Linked DNA regions of Homo sapiens. The protein of the gene in region 1 interacts with the protein of each later gene in a biochemical or structural test. Each region holds a gene or a part of one and is shown on either strand. Other genes may lie near its edges.

Region 1 (7,105 bases):
CCCCGGAGGAGGGTGAGGAGCAGAGCTGGGTGAGTTCTTTTCTTCTTTGGAAATTTTAACATGTACAACTTTAGGCATGTTCTTTAACTTCTTTTGGCTCAGTTTATTCATCTGTGAGGTTTAGATGAACAAGTGCATGTGGAATGCTTAGAGTAGTGCCTGGCACATAATCAGTGCTATTCAAGAGTTTGCTGCTGATATCGTAGAGTCACTGCTTGATCCTGGGGTCAGAGTAGCTAAGGGGACAGAGGGAAATTTCTGCGCTTTTTCTGTGGAAGGAATAAATACTCAGCAGCTGCCTATAATAAAGTGTTAGTAGAAATCAATTGAATTAGGAGGAATTTCTCATAATAGAAGAGCCTTTATTTTTTAGTCCCCCTTGTCTTTATTTTTTTAGTTAGGGAAAAGGCAAGTGGCTCAGTTCAGATTTAATGAGGGCAGTTATTCTTACTTACTACCATGCTTTCAGTGTTCACCCTAACCTGTTCTAACAATAAATAACTGCTTGTTTATTGGGGCTTAGGGACAGGGAATAATTGCAGGAAAAATCTCTACTATGTTCTTCTGAAGAAAGGAAATATTTTCTCGTAGGAAAATTTGATGAAAAAATTCACATTTAAATAAAGACCTTTTTTTGTTTTTTAAAAATACATACAGTATTTGTTAAGAGCCAAAATACTTTATTAAGTGCCTTTATTTGTTTTTTATTAAAAATTTAATATGTGCTTTTTGAAATGTAAACAATGAAGAATGAAGAGTTAAAAAAATGAGTCTGCTTTGAACCTATTCCCTAATCCTTGTCTCTTTTCAGAGAAAATGTCTATTTTTTGTATGTTCTTTCCAGACCTTTTTCTACATGTATGTATATACAATTTTTTTTTAAAAACCAAATGGCATATATTAGGCACATTATGTGTTATATACAATGTTCTCTGTTCTCTGACTTTTTCCTTCTCATTGTGTGTCACTATATATAGATTTACTTCTTTATTTTTAGAAGACATGTAATATTCTCAAGGATGAATATGGTGTAATTCATTTAACTGTTTCCCTGTCGATGAATATCTAGATTATTTCCAATATTTTGTTATAGTTTATTTCAACAAATGTATTGACTGTCAGGCAGTGCTTGTGAACGGATCACAAAAATTCCTGCTCCCATGCAGTTGCCTTTTGGCAGTAGACCGGCAACAAATAAATATATGTTAGTTGATATTGAGGAATGTAAGGTTGGGGAGGAGATAGGGAGTGTGGGGGAGGGGTGTGCATTTTAAAATGGGGTGGTTAAGAGTGAGATACCAATAGATGACATTTGAGTGGAGATCTGGTGAAGGTAACATAATGAGCTCTGAAGGTATTGGTAAGGGAGGAAGAGAGGAATAGAGTATTCTAGGAAGGAGAGAAGCCCAAAGGGAGGTAGGCATGTGCCTGATGTCGTGGGGGAAGAACAATGTGGCTGGAATGAAATAAGCAAGGGAGAGTGGGAGATGAAGTCACAGAAGGTGACGGGCAGTCAGGGCAGATTGTGTTGAGCTTTTTGAACCCACTGTAAGGATTTTTAAAAGATAAATAGTTATTATTTTTTGATTTTAAAAATAGAGTTGGGGTCTTGCTGTGTTGCCCAAGTTGGTCTTGAACTCCTAGGCTCAAACAGTCCTTCCATCTTGACCTCCCAGAGTGCTTGGATTACAGGCATAAGCCACTGCACCCAGCCTATAAATATGTATTTTAATTATAGATATGGGGTCTTGCCATGTTGCCCAGGTTGGTCTCGAACTCCTGGGCTCAAGCTGTCCTCCTGCCTTGGCCTCCCAAAGTGCTGGATTTACAGGCATGAGCCACCAGGCCGGGCCCACTGTAAGGATTTTTGTCTTATGTCGAATGAGGTGGCAAGCCTTTGGAAGTTTCTGAGCAGAAGCATGGCATAATCTTATTTACATTTTGAATGGTCTCTCTGTATTCTTGATAATAGACTTTGGCCAGAAGCAAGAAGGCTATTTAGGAGGGCATTCAGGCATGGTTTGGACCAGGATAGTGGTTTGGTGGTTTGGACCAGGATAGTAGCAGTAGAGGTGGTAGGACATGGCTAGATTCTGGGTGTGTATTAAAGATGAAGTGAGAGAGAGTAGTCAAGGATCACTCTGAAATTTTGGGACTGAACAATTGGAAAGTTGAAGTTGCCGTGAAATGAAATGATGAAAACTGCAGTAGGCAAGGTTAGGAATTTGGCTTTGGGCACGTTCTGTTTGAGAATTTATTAGACATCCAACCAGAGATATTGAGTATGCAGCTGGAAATGTAAATATGAAGTTCAATGGAGAGGTCAGGTTTGGAGAAACAAATGTTGGAGTCTTCAGTTTACTAAAGCAATTTAAAACCCTCAGTTTACCTGGGAGTAAATTAGAGAAGAGAGTCAGGAACAGCCTCTGGGCACTTCAAACTTGGTTAAGGGGCTGAGGATGTGAGAAGGATGCATCGAAGAGACCAAGAAAGGAGCCAGTGAGATAGAAAGGAAACGGAGAAAACCAAGAGAAGGCAGTCAACAGTGTCACTCAAGGAGAACTGAGAATTGACCATTGAATTTAACCATGTGGTAGTGTGGGTGACCTTGCCAAGTGCAATTTTGAGAGAAAAGTAAGGTATGTTTGTAGGAGATTTGAGAAAGGATGGAAGGAAAGGAATTAGAGACTGTTAGTATAAGCATCTCTTTTGAGGAGTTTGTTGTAAAAGAGAGAAAATGGGGCCTTAGCTGGGGGGTGATATGAAGTCAAGAAATTTTTTTTTTTTTTGTTTCTTTCTTAGATGGAGAAATAAAACATTTAAACTTATGGGTAATAGTCCAGCAGACGGACAGTTTGATACATGACAAACTGGAGTAAGTTTAGAGACAAGTTTGAGGAGGACATTTTAATTTATAAGCACATGTGCAAGGATTTTTATAGGCTAGATTCTTAAAAGGATTTCCTGAGTCAAAGGGTATGTGCATTTTAAAAACCTGTACCAATTTATATTCCACTTTCAGTGTATACCCTTTCTAACACTGAACATTCTTAATCTTTAAAATTATTGCCAATCTGATAGGTGATGATATCTTCATTATTTTAATTTGTTTTACTGCTTTCTAGGAACTGTTTATTTAGTCTATCTAATTCTTTGTGATATTTTGTCAGATACTTTCTCCTGGCTGTCTCTTGCCTTTTAACTTTGCTTATGGTATCCTTTTACCATGTACGACTTTTCAAAAATGTTTTTATGCAGTTAAGTTTGTCAGCCATTTCCTATAGCATTTGGGTTTCATTTAGATGATGTAAATATTTGATATAATCTAATATGTTTATACGTTTACATTTTTAATTCATTTGGAGTTTATTTTTGTGTATGTTATGAAAAAGGTTTTCCATCTTTCTCTGTATTCTTAAACAGCTAAATACCATAGGAGTTAACTGTTTCTTGAAGGTTTGAAAGAAATTACCTGTAAAATCTAGGACTAGAACCTCTTTGTAGGGTAGGTCTTTGACTACTGTGTAATTCTTTTTCTGTGGTTAATGATCTGTATGGTTTATGTACTTCTTTTTAGTTTTGGTAGTTGATATCTTCCCAAGAACATCATTGTTTTCATTTACATTTTCAAATTTATTGGTTCAAAATTCTACATAAAGTGAGAAAATAACCAAGTCTTCTTTGCAGTATATCCCTATACTTATACCTTTATCTAGGCAATAAATGCTAGAGCTGTCCTTTCACAGATCTGGAAATTAGGTTAGCTATTTTCAGCGCTTATGGCTCTGTTCTTGGAGTTATTTCTAAATTCTTATTCTCTTTTGTTTGTAAGGTTTCTTGGCTTTGTTTCCTGTTTGCAGTCTGATCCCATTTGCTCTTTTTTTTTTTTTTTTGAGAGACAGTCTAACTCTGTTGCCCAGGCTGAAGTGTAGTGGCACAATCTTGGCTCACTGCAACCTCCACCTCCCAGGTTCAAGCAGTTCTCCTGCCTCAGACTCCCAAGTAGCTGGGATTACAGGCGTGCGCCACCACGCCTGGCTAATTTTTGTATTTTTAGTAGAGATGGGGTTTCACTATGTTGGCCAGGCTGGTCTCGAACTCCTGACCTCAGGTGATCCACCTGCCTCTGCCTCCCAAAAGTGCTGGGATTATAGCGGGAGCCACCGTGTCCAGCCCAATTTGCTCTTTAGCTTACACAGTTTCTACTGTTGAAGTCTGCTGGTAGATCTGTGCTTTTCTTGGTTTCCAGCATTTTTATTTTCATGTTTTTCTATTTCATCTGTCATATTGTAGGGATTTGGGGAGGGATGAGCGGCAAGTGCATATTTTCAGTTAACCTTTTGAAATTGGAAATCAGTTCTTTTCTGTGTAGTTTTGTTTTCTTATCGCCTTAACTGCTGGTTGCACAGTAGTTGGATAGTAACTTCACAACTCAAGTAGTAATAGATAGACTTCACTTTATTTTTTTAATGAAACCAAATGTCTCAGTGGAATATACTCATTCAGAAAAAATGTTGATATGTTGTCACTAAATATTTAAATAGTACTTTTCAAACTTAAAAGTAATCATAACATTTAGAACTATAAGGAACTTTACAGATCATTAGACCAGCTGCCTTATTTTATGGATGAGGACTTTGAGGCCAAGAGAGATTCAATGATTTATCTCAGGTGACAAAGTCAGTGATCAAGACAGAAAGCCCAAGTCTCTTTACTTCCATTCTGCAATGCTATTTGCTGTCATACACATTCATGCTGTTCTCCTTACCTATGTGATAAAGGAGGTATTTCTGTTAATACAAAAAAAATTTTTTTTATTCTAGAGATGTTACCTATGGCTTGGAATTGCTTCTAAAATTTGGACTTAGATACTTTAATAATACATTGATATAGGTGAATTTTTAAAGCATGGGCTGTCAGAGTATGCACTAGCACAAATGAAAACCATATTGTTTATTTCCCCCAAGTTTCCTCTTTTCTGCTTATGGGCTTTATATGATTTATAGACTCTTTGGATTTCTTATTAATATTTTAAAGAAGCTTAAGGAATATAAATATATATAGGCTTGAAAAATGATTTCTGTGATACGTATTTTAGACCTAAGATTTTTACTTTTTTAGTTGAATATAATATGCTCCTAGATCAACACCTATATTTAGAAGGACTAAAATACATGTTTTTCTAAAAAAAGTGCTTTGCTTACCATTTCTTCAGCAATCATTAGGGGATCTATTTATCAAACTTTAATTGCTTTGCTAATTCAACAGTTTTTAAGATGTAGGATTTTGATTATTGCTATCTCATGTTTGGTCATCATGTCTTTAGTTCTGTAAAAGTTCTGTAAAAATACAAAAAAATTACCTGGGCATGGTGGCAATGGGCCTGTAGTCCCAGCTACCCAGGAGGCTGAGAGGTGGGAGGATCGCTTGGGCCCAGCAGGCGGAAGTTGCAGTGAGTGGTGATTGCACTATCCTGGGCGACAGAGGGAGACCCCATCTCAAAACAAAACAAAACAAAAATGTTGAGGGTTTGGTGTGCATAGCATTAGTGGGCTTCGGTTGGTTCTTCTTCCACAGCCCCCCAAGAAACTTAAGAAGGGGACAAATTGGAATGTAGTTAATCTAGAATTAAATTTTAAAAAGATTTGTCTTCAGGTTTTAACTCTTAGTGCCTTTGAAATACATGATATGACCTATTGATTTTTTTTTTTGGAAACTAAAGAACAAGCTCTGTCTCTAATATGAATTCAAAGAATTTAATTTTTTCCAGTCAGCCATAATGGCAGGTGAAGAAATTAATGAAGACTATCCAGTAGAAATTCACGAGTATTTGTCAGCGTTTGAGAATTCCATTGGTGCTGTGGATGAGATGCTGAAGACCATGATGTCTGTTTCTAGAAATGAGTTGTTGCAGAAGGTATTTTAAAAATGTAATTTCCTAAAAATGAATTTCATAAAACAGAATGCTATTTTATGAAACATGTGGAAGAAGAAACAGATTAATGACCTATGCCCCTTTTCCCCTTTATTTCAATTTTATTAGTGTTTGGGTATTTTTAGGGGGGAAACAAAACAAAAGAAAACTCCAGCCTTAGGAAATACCTCCTAACTATGTTTTTAACTTAGTTTTGGAAAAAAAAAGGAGCACTCACGGTATTCTTTTTGACAGACTCTATCTTTGACCTTTTAAGTATTACAATGATGTTATCAGGGTTTCTGGAAACCCTATAGGACAAAAACAGTAAATTGACTTTGACAGTCTAAAACAAATCTCATTATGTTTCTTCTGTCTTTCGTATTGCCTAAGCCTGCTTCTTATACATAAATGCATCATGTACAATGTTTATATTGATAAATTACTTTTGACTTACAAAGCCCAGATCGTAACTCCCGAAATTAAAATAATTCAAAAGAATTTTTCTTGGGTTATGCACTTTCCTTGTCTAACTAAAGATGATACCCTAAGGTGAAAATGTGTGGACAAAAGTCACTCATTAAGAAAACTTCTTTTTACAAATTATTTTCAGATCATTTGGTTATTGGATTATATGAAGTGAAAAAAACTTCTTTGATACATTGTACTTGGTAAAAGTCAAATGTTATCAGATGGTGTTCAAAGTTTGTGTATTTTTTTTCTGTCTCACTTTCTCTCTTTCCCTCTCTCTTTCTTTTTTAACAGTTGGATCCACTTGAACAAGCAAAAGTGGATTTGGTTTCTGCATACACATTAAATTCAATGTTTTGGGGTATGTGTGTTACTTTGGAATTAATTAGAAAGCAAATTACTTATTGTGTGAAAGATGATTTATTTTTAAAATGCTAACAATTTATTTACAATTATACTTTATAACACTTTTAATAGATACTTATTTTTAAATCTAGATGCCAGTGAGCCACACATAGATTTAGTATTACATGGAAATTGAATAATTTAAAGTTTAATTGTTTGTAGGACTTTCCTTTTTTGTGAATAACTAGTTTCTTTAATTGGAATGTTTTAAATTAATACATTCACCATTTTATTCCATGAAATTTTTCTCTTGTAGTTTATTTGGCAACCCAAGGAGTTAATCCTAAGGAACATCCAGTAAAACAGGAATTGGTA
Region 2 (7,105 bases), on another chromosome or scaffold:
TTTCATGGTGCTGATTCAGACATAGAATGGCTACAGAAAGACTTTGGGTTGTATGTAGTAAACATGTTTGATACTCATCAGGCAGCACGCCTTCTTAACCTGGGCAGGCACTCACTCGATCATCTCCTGAAACTCTACTGCAACGTGGACTCAAACAAGCAATATCAGCTGGCTGATTGGAGAATACGGTCAGTTTGCTCTTACTGAGGAAATGTGGGTGGCAGAAGAAAGTGATTATTCATTAACCTGTCGTCCAGAGAGACCTGGGTTTGAGCCCTACCACGCTCATTGAGATGAATGGCATCAGGCTTTTCGCCAGGCATCTTCAGCAGCGTAAAAGTGGTAGGAAATTTTTTAATGCTAAGGTGGACTTTATGATGGGCTGATGCAGTTACACTGTGTTCCATGGAAATAGTGGTTGAAAAAGAGGTGCCGCACCAGTATTTGCCCATGCTGGTCTTTTGTTTGAAACTGGGATCTTTCTACCAGATGATTTTGTGTGTGTGTAAGATCTTCTGTAGGGATGATTGTGTGTGTGTGTGTGTGTGCAAGATGACCTTCCATAGGTGGGAAAGAATTCTAAGGGACACTGTTGTTTAGCTTTACACTGAGCGTTTTTTTGTGGCATAAGGTAGCAGTTTTGCCCCACTTCCTGCAGGCCTTGCTCAGCTTGGTCGTTTTCCGCTTGGTTGCTACCTCTCCGAGGTTGCACCTGTCATAGGAAGGTGCTACTGAGCTTTTTCAGGAATTCCACATGCCAGAATGCCAGAATTTCTTTTTTTCTTTTTTTTTTTTTGAGATGCAGTTTCACTGTTGCCCAGGCTGGAGTGCAATGGCGCGATCTCGGCTCACCACAACCTCTGCCTCCCGGGTTCAAGCAATTCTCCTGCCTCAGCCTCCTGAGTAGCTAGGATTACAGGCGTGCACCACCACGCCCAGCTAATTTTGTATTTCCAGTAGAGACGAGGTTTCTCCATGTTGGTCAGACTGGTCTCAAACTCCTGACCTCAGGTGATCCTCCCGCCTCCGCCTCCCAAAGTGCTGGGATTACAGGCGTGAGCCACCGCGCCTGGCCCAGAATGCCAGAATTTCTAAATATAAAAGTAAAATTACATTTGGACTGATAAAATCCAAATAAAAGATAAAAATTGATAAAATCTAAAAACCACTCCCTGTTACGGAGCCCTTACCCTGTGCCAAGCTCTGGGCTAAGTGCTTCAAGGATGTGGTCCTGTGTAGTCCTCACAACAGCCTATGAAGTACCTGGTTCCCATTTCACAAGTTAGGTGGGTCAGCCCAAAGAGGTTAAGGAACTTGTCCAAGGACAGACATCTGGAGCTGAGATTTGAACTCAGGACACCAGTGGCCCCTTTTCTACTGCCTCTTGTGTGTGTCCAGAGTAGCTGACAGTGCCCTTATTTTAACCACCGCATTACCCTGCCTCCAATTCTACCCAGCTGTTAAAATAATGGTTTATCATGTTAAAATGCAGGAAATGTTGGCATAACTGCAGTATTGACTATGAAAGGATCTTTCATATTGGAAGGGTCTAAGGAAGTCCCAGCACCCAAGGAATAGACAAATTGAATTGCTGTCCTTGGGGGCAATCAGTAAAACATTGTCCTCTGCAATTCCAGCCCTCTGCCCGAGGAGATGCTCAGCTACGCCCGGGATGACACCCATTACCTGCTATATATCTATGACAAAATGAGGCTGGAGATGTGGGAGCGCGGCAACGGGCAGCCGGTGCAGCTGCAGGTGGTGTGGCAACGGAGCAGGGACATCTGCCTCAAGGTACACCTCAGCCGCAGTCACACAGACCGCGACACTTGGGCTCTGTGTCTGGCCAGGTTCTAGTTCTTAGGTTTGCTCCTTACATTCATGAAAAGAGCCAAACATTTTCCAGAGCCCAGGGCACAATTTTGATTCCCGTTGATTTTGAATGTTCTCTAATACTTTGTAGAAATTCATCAAACCTATCTTCACGGATGAGTCCTACCTTGAACTCTATAGGAAGCAGAAGAAGCACCTTAACACACAGCAGTTGACAGCCTTTCAGCTGCTGTTTGCCTGGAGGGATAAAACAGCTCGCAGGGAAGATGAAAGTTACGGGTAAGGGATTAGAGGTTCTTTTAATACTTGTTTCCAGACTGAGGAGATCTAATAACAAGTAAATAATGGGCTTTTTTCTTTTGCTATGAAAGCTGGTTATTTCCCCTATGTGACAGCATCTAATGGAACTTACTGGCTGAATGTAATGTGTCCCCACCGTGTGTGTGTGTGTGTGTGTGTGTGTGTGTGTGTGTGTGTGTTTTTTTTTTTCCAGATATGTACTGCCAAACCACATGATGCTGAAAATAGCTGAAGAACTGCCTAAGTGAGTTTCAAATCTGATTAATATGTTCTGACTTTCTCAGTAGATCTGATGTTCTTCAAAATCAAGCTTTTCTGGTTGCTATTACCCAAGGCTGCTTACTCAGAGATTAATGCTCCAAGCTTGGAAGGTAGCAAGTTGAAGGAATATAGAATTTCTGCCCTCAGGCTGCCATTTAAGCACTAAAACTTCTGAACTGGAATCATTTCAATGATTATGCCTTAGTTTGAGTTTATTTTAAGTCTCTGAGCCTTATAGCATCTACTTGCAAGGGAAGAAAATGTCCCAGATTCTGTCATCTGTACTTTCTTCCAAATTAAAGCAGCTCATGATCTTAAACGTTTTGTGATCTTGATTGAAGTATAAGCAAGAATGAAAATCCACAGCCCGTTGGTTGCCCCCTGCGGAATTGAGAATCCACAGTGCTATGGCACTTACTTTCAGCTCTCCCTGATTGTGGGAGTCAGGCTCCAAGAGGGATCCACTTAAAGCTTGGTGTCGCAAAGAACACATGGAGAAGTTGGCCTAGGCTGGCCTGACATCAGTGTTTCCTTAGTCACCTACCTGTAGCTTCAGCTTAGGTGGCAGCCTGGCTTTACCCAGTCATTATTCTTATCTGGAAGCCTTTAAGGGCTGCGTTTCTGAGTGACAAGTTGAGTGTGTTCTTACTTGTCTTCAGGGAACCTCAGGGCATCATAGCTTGCTGCAACCCAGTACCGCCCCTTGTGCGGCAGCAGATCAACGAAATGCACCTTTTAATCCAGCAGGCCCGAGAGATGCCCCTGCTCAAGGTAAGAAGCTTTTCTGCGGCTGGGCACAGTGGCTCACGCCTATAATCTCAGCACTTTGGGAGGCTGAGGTGGCTGGATCATTTCAGGTCAGGAGTTCGAGACCAGCCTGGCCAACATGGTGAAACCCCGTCTCTACTAAAAATACAAAAAATTAGCCAGGCGTGTGGTGCACGCCTGTAATCCCAGCTACTCCGGAGGCTGAGGCAGGAGAATTGCTTGAATCCGGGAGGCGGAGGTTGCAGTGAGCCGAGATCGCGCCACTGCACTCTAGCCTGGGAGGCAGAGCGAGACTCCGTCTCAAAAAAAAAAAAAAAGATTTTCTACTGAAGGGTCCCAACTTAGCAAGCCTGTTTTTTTTTTGTTTGTTTGTTTTTTGTTTTTTTTAGACGGAGTCTCGCTCTGTCTCCAGGCTGGAGTGCAGTGGCATGATCTCGGCTCACTGCAACCTCCGCCTCCTGGATTCAAGCAGTTCTCCTGACTCAACCTCCTGAGTCGCTGGGATTACAGGCATGCACCACCACGCCTGGCTAATTTTGTATTTTTAGTAGAGGCGGGGTTTCACCATGTTGGCCAGGCTGGTCTCGAACTCCTGACCTCAGGTGATCCACCACCTGGGCCTCCCAAAGTGCTGGGATTACAGGCGTGAGCCATCATGCCCAACTTTAGCAGGCCTGTTTTTTCTGCTAGTGTCTTATTCCTTGTGGCTTCCTAGATTCATGAGCTGGTCTGCATTCTAAACAACCCTAGGGAAATAATAGGGCTTAGGAAATCCAGTGTGTGTGTCTTGATGAATTTAGCTGCTTTTTTTTATGATAGTTGAGAGCTAAGACTCTTTATTTATGACCTTAGCTTTGATGATTCAGCAGCAAGTACTGTCTGGTAACTGGGCCAATTCACTGTTCTAAGGCAGTTAATGTGGTGGAGTGAGATGGAGCGGTGACCTCAGCAGAGGGAGCTAGTTTTGGGAGCCTGGCGATGGCCCAGATGTGAAGTGATAGCTCCCTGAATGAGTGAGGAATCACACACTGAGAAGGAAAGAACAGGTGTAGGAAGCATCAGAAGAAAAGATTGATGAGACTTCGTAGCAAATGCTGACAATGGCAGCCAGTTTTCTTTTGTTTTTTTTGTTGTTGTTGTTGTTTTGAAACAGGGTCAGCCGGGCGCGGTGGCTCACGCCTGTAATCCCAGCACTTTGGGAGGCCGAGGCGGGCGGATCACGAGGTCAGGAGATCGAGACCATCCCGGCTAAAACGGTGAAACCCCGTCTCTACTAAAAATACAAAAAATTAGCCAGGCGTAGTGGCGGGCGCCTGTAGTCCCAGCTACTTGGGAGGCTGAGGCAGGAGAATGGCGTGAACCCGGGAGGCGGAGCTTGCAGTGAGCCGAGATCCCGCCACTGCACTCCAGTCTGGGCGACAGAGCGAGACTCCGTCTCAAAAAAAAAAAGAAACAGGGTCTTGCTCTGACACCCAGGCTGGAGTGCAGTGGTGCAATCATGGCTCACTGTAGCCTCGCATCTGCTAGGCTCCCACCTTAGCCTCCTGAGCAGCTGGGACCACAGGCATACACCACCATACCCAGCTATGTTTTTTTTAATTTTTTGTAGAGATGGGTCTTGCTGTGTTTCCCAGACTGGTCTTGAACCCGTGGGCTCAAGCAGTCCTCCCACCTCAGCCTCCCAAAGTACTGGAATTACAGTTGTGAGCCACCTGCCAGCCCCACATTTGCAATTTTTGTGTTAAAAATGTCTTTGTAAGCTCTGTACTTTGTCCAAGTAAAGAGAGACCTTGATTACTAGAGAAGAGTCTTTTTCAAGCTCTTTGGAATCCTTCCTATTGTGCTTAGTCATGTTAAAGAGCTTTATTCTTTCATTCTACAAATAATTATTGAGCACCAAATAATTATCATGCCAGGCACTGTAAGGAGTGAAGAGAGGAAAGAAAATCTCTGGGCTTTTGAGAAACAGGCTGGTGAAGGAATACAGTCAGCGCTGGAGACTGGGGGTTGGACTTGAGGTGCTTGGGCAACTTTCCTCAATTCCCTTCGTTTTTTTCCTTAGTCTGAAGTTGCAGCCGGAGTGAAGAAGAGCGGACCGCTGCCCAGTGCTGAGGTAGAGTGTCGGATCTGTTTTCTCCCCCAGGAGGGAAAACGTCAAGTCACAGCCAGTGCAAGTACACCTCTGACAGAGGCCTGTGCTGACAGCTGGCAGAAAGCTACTGCCGGCTTGCACGTTTTACATGCCAGCCTGCTGGTGTCTTTTAATGCAGAGATTGGAGAATGTTCTCTTTGGACCTCACGACTGCTCCCATGCCCCTCCGGATGGCTATCCAATCATCCCAACCAGTGGTAAAGTCGAGAGCCCTCCTGACTGTCCCGAAGAGGTTGGGACACAGCTACCTTGTCTAAAATTCTGTAGGCTTGGCCGGGCGTGGTGGCTTATGCCTGTAATGCCAGCATATTGGAAGGCTGAGGCGGGTAGATCACCTGAGGTCAGGAGTTTGAGACCAGCCTGGCCAACATGGTGAAACCCCATCTCTACTAAAAATACAAAAATTAGCTGGCATGGTGGTGGGCACCTGTAATCTTAGCTACTTAGGAGGCAGAGGCAGGAGAATCACTTGAACCGAGGAGGCGGAGGTTGCAGTGAGCCGAGATTGTGCCATTGTACTCCAGCCTAGGGGACTACACTAAAACTCCATCTCAAAAAGAAAAAATAAACAAAATTCTGTAGGCTTTGACCTTACTATCTTCTGCTCCTCTAGGATCTGTGCCAGTTCAGAAGCAGGCGAGCCTCTTCCCTGATGAAAAAGAAGATAACTTGCTGGGTACCACATGCCTGATTGCCACAGCTGTCATCACGTTATTTAATGTGAGTAGCACAGAAACTTCACTGAGGTGATGAGGACCCCCTGGGATTTACTGGATTTATTCAGCAGGCTGTCTGCCTGGAGCATTGCATACACTCGGAGACTAATGCTGAGAGCAAAACCCAGCAGTGCTGGGAGAGGCATAGAGACCAATGAGCAAGGTGGCACTGACCACTCTGGAGGAGGTGGTCTGGGGACGTGGATGGGGGATTCTCTTGAGCTCTGTGTGAAGAAATCTTCCAGGAAAGGCTGACGTCCTGTTGTTGAACAGCACCTAGTGGGAGGAGGGCCTGCGCTAAGAGAACATACAAGCAGGGCTTTCCAGACAAGCTGCAGTGGTGGTGGAGGAAAAACGGTTCACCTGGATGCCCAGCAGGGGTGGCATGGGTGTACTGTCCGATGAACTGTAGAATGTGCGCTGCCCATAGCTTCCTGCCTGACCCCAGCACCACATATGTGTGCTTTCAGTGAAGAAGAGAAATGATTTTTTTTTTTTTTGAGACAATCTTGTTCTGCCACCAAGGCTGGAATGCAGTGGCACAATCATGGCTCACTGCAGCCTTGACTTCTGAGGCTCAAACGATCCTCCTGCCTCAGCCTCCTGAGTAGCTGGGATTACAGGCATGAGTCACTGTGCCCAGCTATTTCACTTTTTTTGTTTGTTTGGTTTGGTTTTTTGAGATGGAGTTTCGCTCTTGTTGCACAGGCTGGAGTGCAGTGGCATCATCTCGGCTCACTGCAACCTCCACCTCCCAGGTTCAAGCGATTCTCCTGCCTCAGCTTCCCTAGTAGCTGGGATTGCAGGCGCCCGCCACCATACTTAGCTAATATTTTATATTTTTAATAGAGATGGGGCCACTATGTTGGCCAGGCTGGTCTCGAATGCCTGACCTCAGGCGATCCACCCACCTAAGCCTCCCAAAGTGCTGGGATTACAGGCATGAGCCACCACACCCGGCATTTTTTTTTTTTTTTTTTTTTTTTTTTTTTGTGACAGGATCTCATCCTGTCACCCAGGTGGGAGTGCAGTGGCACCATCCTGGCTCACTGCAACCTCTGCCTCCTGGGCTCAA
Region 3 (7,708 bases), on another chromosome or scaffold:
GTGGCATGTTCTTAAAGTTCTCCCCAAAACATCCAGGCTTTGGGTGGGGTTGGGAAAGATAGCTGGCCTTTTAGAGACAAAGAAAAGGATTTAGGAGGGCAGGGAGTGAGTCTCTCCCAGGCACATGGCTGGTTCCCTGATTCAGGGGCATCCCCAGCATTTCTATACCAGGTTTGCATCACCTGGGCAGACAGGTTTCTACTCTGGGCAATGGTTTCTTGGTGAGAAAGGAGGGGGATGGGAAGGCATCTACAGAAGCCTGACCTGTTTCCAGCAAGGACCCACCCTCAGTCAGTCAGTCAGTCAGTCAGTCAGTCAGTCAAGCAGTTGGCCCAAGATTTAGGCCACCCAGAATTTGCACAGGGTGTTGCCCTGTTACCCAGAACAACCTACTGACAGGGAGAACAGATCTCAGATCAAACATGCACACCCACACACACAGCATTCACACTCACACACAAACATGCAGTCTCACTCATAGTCATAGAATCACACACACACACACACACACGTGCACACATACATAACTGACCAGAGCTTAGTGTTCTCAATACCTTTCCTTCTTCTCCTCTGTGTCTGCTGTCCTCTGCAGTCCAAATAAATCAAGGAAAATTAAAGACATATTTGGAAACACACAGGCAGGATCCAACACTGCCCCTAATGGGAAGGTTCGTCCCCAGAATCCCAGACTTGGGAATCCAAGTGGAAGTGTATGCAGAACCAGGGCAGTGCCTTGCTGTACCAGGTTGTGAATATGCATCTTTTCTACCTGGATCCAATCTGAGTACTATTTATGAAGAGTTAAGTGCTTTCTTGAGTTGAACTGGGCTATGGGAGAAATGGGGTGTGTGTGTGTGTGTGTAGAAGTGAACAGCAGGCCGGGCATGGTGGCTCACGCCTGCTATCCCAGCACTTTGGGAGGCTGAGGTGGGTGGATCACCTTAGGTCAGGAGTTCAAGACCAGCCTGACTAATATGGTGAAACCCCATCTCTACTAAAAATATAAAAAAAATTAGCCAGGCATTGTGGCGTGCTCCTGCAGTCCCAGCAACTTGGGACGCTGAGACAGGAGAATGGCTTAAACCCGGAAGGTGGAGGTTGCAGTGAGCCACTGCACTCCAGCCTGGGCGATAGAGTGGGACTCTGTCTCAAAAAAAAAAAGAAGTGAACAGCAATGTCCAGCTGGAGGGATAGGTGAGGAAGGTTGTGTTGAGATACACCTGTTGTCTTAAGGTCTTACAGCCAAGGTTGAGGTCAAAGAGAAACCAAGATTCTACTCCGAATCACCCAGAGCCAGACAACCCAGCCTTTCCCCCCTCCCTTTGGTGGCTTTGGGTCTCAGAGTTTCTGCCCTTCTCCCAGCAGCTGCTGACAGAGAAAGGAGCAGGGTACACAGACTGACTAGAAGCTTCTGGGGCCAAGAGAGAACCCTGCCTTTTCATTCTGTACTCCTCTCACCAGCTGTAGAAGAAAGACACCCGAATTACTTGTGAGGGAGAAAAGGAAGGGCCCTATAAGAAATGGAAAGGAAGGAAGGAAGGAGCAAGGGGGTAACCCCTCTCCTTTGCCCCCTCCCTCCCAGCCTCTGCCTTCACACCACACACAGACTGCAGAACCACCCAGGTTTTGCCAAGAGGAGAGTCAGGCTGACTGAATTTCAGCTCTCTCTACCTCTGCTCCCTCCTCCTTCTCACTGATTGCAGCAGGCGAGGAGTCTTGACCCACCCCAGCTCCCACTCCTAGAAGAACAAACATCCAGCAAGTATACAGGGGGTGGGTAGGACCTCCACAGCAGCAAACAGAGCTGTGGGCCTTGGGGAGGACCCCGGCCAAGTAAAGGGAGGGTGCTAGTGGTGGTGCTGTGCTGTGGGGAGCTAGATGCACGCCAGGGGTCCTGATTTTGAGTCCAGCCCTGACAGACACCTGGGCTCTGGCCCTGGCTCTGACTTGGAGTCAAGGTCACAGAGAGCAGGCAAGGGCAGGACAGGGCAATTCACCTCCTAGCTTTCCCTCCAGAGCCCAGAGGGTGGAGGGAGAGGGGGTGGAGGCTGAGAACCAAGTTTTCCTGAAAAGCCTCTTTCCTTGTTTGTTTTAGCCCCTCCCAGTTGCTCCCACACTCTGCTGCAGCTTCCCAACTCTGGGCCAAAGGGCCAGAGAAGAGCCCACTGCCCTCTCTCTCCCACTTTTCTTGGGAGCAGGAGAACAAAGCTAAAGCCTAGCCCATTCCAGGAAGCTCATCTTCTACAAGGAGTCAGAGGGTGAGTGGTCAAGCTCCTGCAGTCAACCTCACTGTCCTCACTACCCAGTTTACTCCTGTGCTCATATTATTATTCTTTTTTTTTTTTTCTTTTTTTGAGATGGAGTTTCGGTCTTGTTGCCCATGCTGGAGTGCACTGGCGCGATCTCAGGTCACTGCAACCTCTGCCTCCCGGGTTCAAGCAATTCTCCTGCCTCAGCCTCCCGAGTAGAGTAGCTGGGACTACAGGCGTGCGCCACCACGCCCAGCTAATTTTTGTATTTTTAGTAGAGACGAGGTTTCTCCATGTTGGCCAGGCTGGTCTCAAACTCCTGACCTCGGGTGATCCACCTGCCTCGGCCTCCCCAAGTGCTGGGATTACAGGTGTGAGCCACCACCACACTTGGCCTTTTTTTTTTTTCTTTGAGATGGACTCTCACCCTGTTGCCCAGGCTGTTGTGCAGTGGCATGATCTCGGCTCACTGCAATCTCCATCTCCTGGGTTCAAGCAATTCTCCTGCCTCAGCCTCCCGAGTGGCTGGGACTACAGGCGTGCGCCACCACGCCCAGCTAATTTTTGTATTTTTAGTAGAGATGGGGTTTCACCATGTTGGCCAGGCTGGTCTCGAACTCCTGACCTCAGGTGATCTGCCCACTTCAGCCTCCCAAAATGCTGGGATTACAGGTGTCAGCCACCACCCCCGGACTCCCATATTCTTTTTCTCTACCTTTTCGGTGGCTTTCATGTTTCCCAGGCATCCATCAATACCATCCCAGGAGCTGCCTGTGGAGAAGGGCTTCCTATGTGAAGAAAACCCTCTCTAGAAGCACTGGGACTGGGGAGGAATTAGCGGGAGCAGCAGGTGGCTCAGGCTCCCTCTCCCTTCGCTGCCTAAGAAGCTTCCATCCCCTCCATGACCCAAGCCCTCTAACATGATAGATCTCCTCTACTTGAGATCTGTTATTACTCATGGGACAGTTGCTGCTCTGAAGCGAAATACTGGCTGTTTTTTGTTTGTTTGTTTTGGAGACAGAGTCTCACTCTATCCCCCAGGCCGGAGTGCAATGGCGATCTCGGCTCACTGCAACCTCCACCTCCCGGGTTCTAGCGATTCTCCTGCCTCAGCCTCCTGACTAGCTGGGATTACAGGCACCCACCACCACATCCGGCTAATTTTTGTATTTTTAGTAGAGACGTGGTTTCACCGTGTTGGTCAGGCTGGTCTCAAACTCCTGACCTCAGGTGATCAACCCACCTCAGCCTCACAAAGTGCTGGGATTACAGGCATGAGCCAAAGCACCCGGCAATGCTGGCTGTTTCTAACCCCTGTTCAGTATTTCACTTGTACATCTACCCACCTTCCCATTCGGGGTGGGCAGATGAAACTAGCAATGGACGTCTGACCTTGGGTCGGTCACTTCTCCTAAGCTTCCTGTTCCCCACTAGTAAAAAGAGGGAGGCTTAAGATGATCTACATGTTCCCCTCTGAGTAGTAATCTTCTGTGGAATTCATATTTTATCCTCCAGCACCGAGGGGCAGGGGTGTCACTCTGCCCCCACCCCCTGCCTCACCTCTTCCCCATTACTTTAGGACCTCAAAGCACTTTCACTATTAGTTCCCCTCTGTTGTCCTTTTTATTTCCCAGACAAAGGGAAATGACTCACCCCAAAGTCAACTGGAGTGGGTGGAATGGTGTCATACAAGCAAACAGGGAGTCCCTACAGACATCCCTACCTCTGTGGGAACTCCTTCCCCTGGAGGTGTTCTCCCTAAGGCGAGTAGAAGGGAAAGGGGGTCACATTTCCTTTCCTTCTCTGGACTTTGCCCTGAAGCAGAGGGCAGCCTAAGCTCCTGACTCCAGGGAAATCTCCCTCCCCGGCTTCTCTCTCTCCCGGTCACCAGTAACCTCAGGACGAGGTCAGTCCTGCAATCACGTGAAGCCCTCACGTTTGCAAGGTTTGCAGAAAGGGCCTCTTAGCTTTGATCTCCCAGACAGCAAACAAGCTTGCCAGTCCCTCCCCAGAAATTCACATGCCCCTGCCATACAGGCTTTCTAAACACGCCACCCTGACTCTTCAGCGCACCCCACCCCACCCCACTCTCAGCTCCTCCCAGGTCCCGGCAAGCGCTTTGCCAGGCAGAAAGGGGAAAGGCACGCAGTCCGCCCACTTTGTCGGTGGACTACAAATCCCGACAGTCTTGTCGTTGCGCAGGCGCGCAAGAGCTCAACGTGCCGGCTGTTGGAAAAGTGTGTCACTGGGGCACGAGGCGCTCCCTGGGATCACATGGTACCTGCTCCAGTGCCGCGTGCGGCCCGGGAACCCTGGGCTGCTGGCGCCTGCGCAGAGCCCTCTGTCCCAGGGAAAGGCTCGGGCAAAAGGCGGCTGAGATTGGCAGAGTGAAATATTACTGCCGAGGGAACGTAGCAGGGCACACGTCTCGCCTCTTTGCGACTCGGTGCCCCGTTTCTCCCCATCACCTACTTACTTCCTGGTTGCAACCTCTCTTCCTCTGGGACTTTTGCACCGGGAGCTCCAGATTCGCCACCCCGCAGCGCTGCGGAGCCGGCAGGCAGAGGCACCCCGTACACTGCAGAGACCCGACCCTCCTTGCTACCTTCTAGCCAGAACTACTGCAGGCTGATTCCCCCTACACACTCTCTCTGCTCTTCCCATGCAAAGCAGAACTCCGTTGCCTCAACGTCCAACCCTTCTGCAGGGCTGCAGTCCGGCCACCCCAAGACCTTGCTGCAGGGTGCTTCGGATCCTGATCGTGAGTCGCGGGGTCCACTCCCCGCCCTTAGCCAGTGCCCAGGGGGCAACAGCGGCGATCGCAACCTCTAGTTTGAGTCAAGGTCCAGTTTGAATGACCGCTCTCAGCTGGTGAAGACATGACGACCCTGGACTCCAACAACAACACAGGTACTGAGATTTCTTTACTATCATCTTTTCCCTGTCACTGTCTCCCCACCTCCATCTACGCCTTATAAAAAGAGGAACTTTGTAAGGGACTGGGGTGTCCCTCGGCCCGGAGATTTGCTAACGTGCTGCGGTGCTTTAGTGTGGGATTTCCAGAGCGGCTTGTTCGGGCTGGAAATGCTCTCAGAAACGCCCCATCACCACCCCTCAGAGTCCCAAAGCTCCCTTGAGCCTCGAATCCCTGGGCAGGAGGAAATGGAGAGGAGGTACGGGTGGTGAAGCGAAGAATTTAGGGGGACTGGGAGCTTTGGAACAGTGCCCCGAAACGGCCCCATCTGTCCACTACCTGCAGCTGTAGTATGCCTGGCCTCAGAAAACGGACCCCCTCCCCTCTTGTCTTCCCCCTCCTCTAGTTCCTGCAGGCGCGAGGGAATCTGAGAAGAGTGGCGCGATGGGGTTCAGGGAAGGAGGGGCTGGGAGAATCGTTCGGATCTCACTGGGGAATCCTCAGTGACAGGAGGGAGCGACACTTGAGGAGTCCAGAGCGTGGTGCCCGGCCCGAGGGAGGGCACCTACAGGGCTCCGGCCGCCGGGAGGGCTCACATGGCTCTAGAGCCGGGCCCACGTGCTGCGTTTGTTTTCATTCAGCAGAAGCCGTGGCTGCCACCCCATTGGTCGTTGCCTCCCGGCCTCGTTACATAATGAGCTCCGCCCCCCCGGTCGCCCCGGCAACGCGTGTTCCCTTCTCTCCTCCCCTAGGTTGTCCTGGCCCTGCTATCGTTCGGGGTCCAGCCCACGACCTGGTGGCCGGGGAAGGGCGGGTAGGAGGCGGGGCGACTGCTCTCGATTGACGGGAAGCGAGGAGGGCGGGGCCTCGAGTTCCGGGGTTCCTCGTTGGGGAGCCACGTGCGAGAGGCACACGTGGAGCAGGGACGTGAGGCCGGCTGAGGGCCCAGCTCCCGCCCTGCCCCGCCCCGCCGAGATCTGGGTGAAGCTGGGCTGACTCACCGCCCCCGCCTGCCTCCTTTTCCGGTCCGCCTGCCCGGCCCCCTCCCCCATCACCAAAACAAAGTAACATGGAGCCATTCCTGACCTTTCATGGCCTTCTGTTTTACACTCCCTAAAGAGACCTCACCCCTAACCACCCTTCTCACTCCTTTCCACTTCACTCTTATTTGCACCTACTTCACCGTACTGCATTTAGACTCAGCTTCCCCACATTACAAATTCCTGTTCCCCAAGCTTCTCTCTCCTTAGTTCTGCGAGCATTGTCTTACCCCCATCTCCACCAGACAAGCTGCAGTTTGCCTACTAAGGGCTCCCCAAAGCAACTGCACCCCACAATCATAGCTGAAATGATACTGTCCTTTTTTTCTCACAGAAAGGAAAACTGAGACCCAAAGAGGGGAGTTGATGTCCTCTAGGTCACAAAATAAGTTGGTAGTGATGGGTCTAGACCTAGACCTAGACTCTTGAGTATGCTCCTCACTTCCACGTTGGAAGCCTCTGCATGAAGGTCTCACTCCTTTTTGGGGGATGGGTGAACTAGGTCAACTTCATTTACTGCCAACTAATGATTCCATCCCCCACCTCAGCCCTGAAACCGGGGGAGCTGATCTGTTGTGCAACTATTTTCCAAGGAGCTGGGTTCACCCTGACCAACCTTGAGCTATTTTAGGGCCGCCCTGCCCAGTTCAGTGTGTGTCAGTGGGTGAGCAAGACATGTGCCTCTGCAGACACAGTGGCATGGCATGTGTTAGGTCACATGTGTCCTGGGATCCTCCCTTCTCCCACCCCGCCCATGGCAGACCAATCTAGGTGCTTGCCGGAGGTGTGGCAGGCAGGTCACCTTTTTCTCCTGCTAATACCACGGGAGCACAGCCACCTCATTGGCAATGTAACCAGAGGGTCAAAGTCCCTGAATGGCCAGAGAGCCAAGGTCATTGTTACCAGGCTGAGATCTGAAGGGGGAATTTTAGAGCCCCAGGCTGGACAGTTTGTACTTCCACCTCCTGCAACTCGCACCTCGAAGTCCTTTTTGGACACAGGGATAGACTCCACTGTGGCTCACTCTCTTAAGAGGCCAGGGGAACCAGGCTGGGCAGATTCCTTCCCTTCATTTCCTTCAGAGAATATATGTCCCCAACTGGGGGGAATGTGACTGTCTTACTTTTGTAAACCCTCCATTCTCTTTACTGTTGGCTACCTATCTCTCCATGGTCCATGGTCTCATTCCTGGAATGGTCTTAGTGTTAAAATCAGCAGCTGGGTTTTTGTTTTTGGAGGACTGGGCACTTTGAATGGTGCTCAGCTGCCCATCCCATCCCCAGATCTTCAACTGACAACTAAGTCATTAGCTGCAGTCGATATTCCCAAGGAAGGCAACTAAGGAAGGGGGGCACATATGCGAGATGCCACAGGGGTCATGCCTCATACTGAAAGCAGAAGCTGAAGGTGGCCTGCAAAGGGTCGTAGGTGTTGCTTGGCCATGCCATGTCTACTGTGTGTTGGGGAATTGCTTATTAACTCCAAGATTAGGGGCTCCACATGGT

The links.
Region 2: the proteins of C1D (region 1) and EXOSC10 form a complex in vitro, tested with the Homo sapiens proteins (one study listed by IntAct).
Region 3: the proteins of C1D (region 1) and NR1D1 form a complex in vitro, tested with the Homo sapiens proteins (one study listed by BioGRID).

What each region holds. Positions count from the first base shown.
Region 1 is NC_000002.12:68,045,985-68,053,089, reverse strand, and holds part of C1D (nuclear nucleic acid-binding protein C1D), read left to right. Parts: exon of another isoform or gene 1-29; intron 30-5,770; 5' UTR 5,771-5,779; coding exon 5,780-5,917; intron 5,918-6,679; coding exon 6,680-6,746; intron 6,747-7,046; coding exon 7,047-7,102; intron 7,103-7,105. UniProt on the Homo sapiens protein: Plays a role in the recruitment of the RNA exosome complex to pre-rRNA to mediate the 3'-5' end processing of the 5.8S rRNA; this function may include MPHOSPH6.
Region 2 is NC_000001.11:11,075,771-11,082,875, reverse strand, and holds part of EXOSC10 (exosome complex component 10), read left to right. Parts: coding exon 1-188; intron 189-217; exon of another isoform or gene 218-342; intron 343-1,637; coding exon 1,638-1,794; intron 1,795-1,963; coding exon 1,964-2,112; intron 2,113-2,326; coding exon 2,327-2,377; intron 2,378-3,053; coding exon 3,054-3,165; intron 3,166-5,224; coding exon 5,225-5,275; intron 5,276-5,432; coding exon 5,433-5,511; intron 5,512-5,927; coding exon 5,928-6,034; intron 6,035-7,105. UniProt on the Homo sapiens protein: Catalytic component of the RNA exosome complex which has 3'->5' exoribonuclease activity and participates in a multitude of cellular RNA processing and degradation events.
Region 3 is NC_000017.11:40,097,515-40,105,222, reverse strand, and holds the start of NR1D1 (nuclear receptor subfamily 1 group D member 1), read left to right. Parts: upstream 1-4,633; 5' UTR 4,634-5,128; coding exon 5,129-5,159; intron 5,160-7,708. UniProt on the Homo sapiens protein: Transcriptional repressor which coordinates circadian rhythm and metabolic pathways in a heme-dependent manner.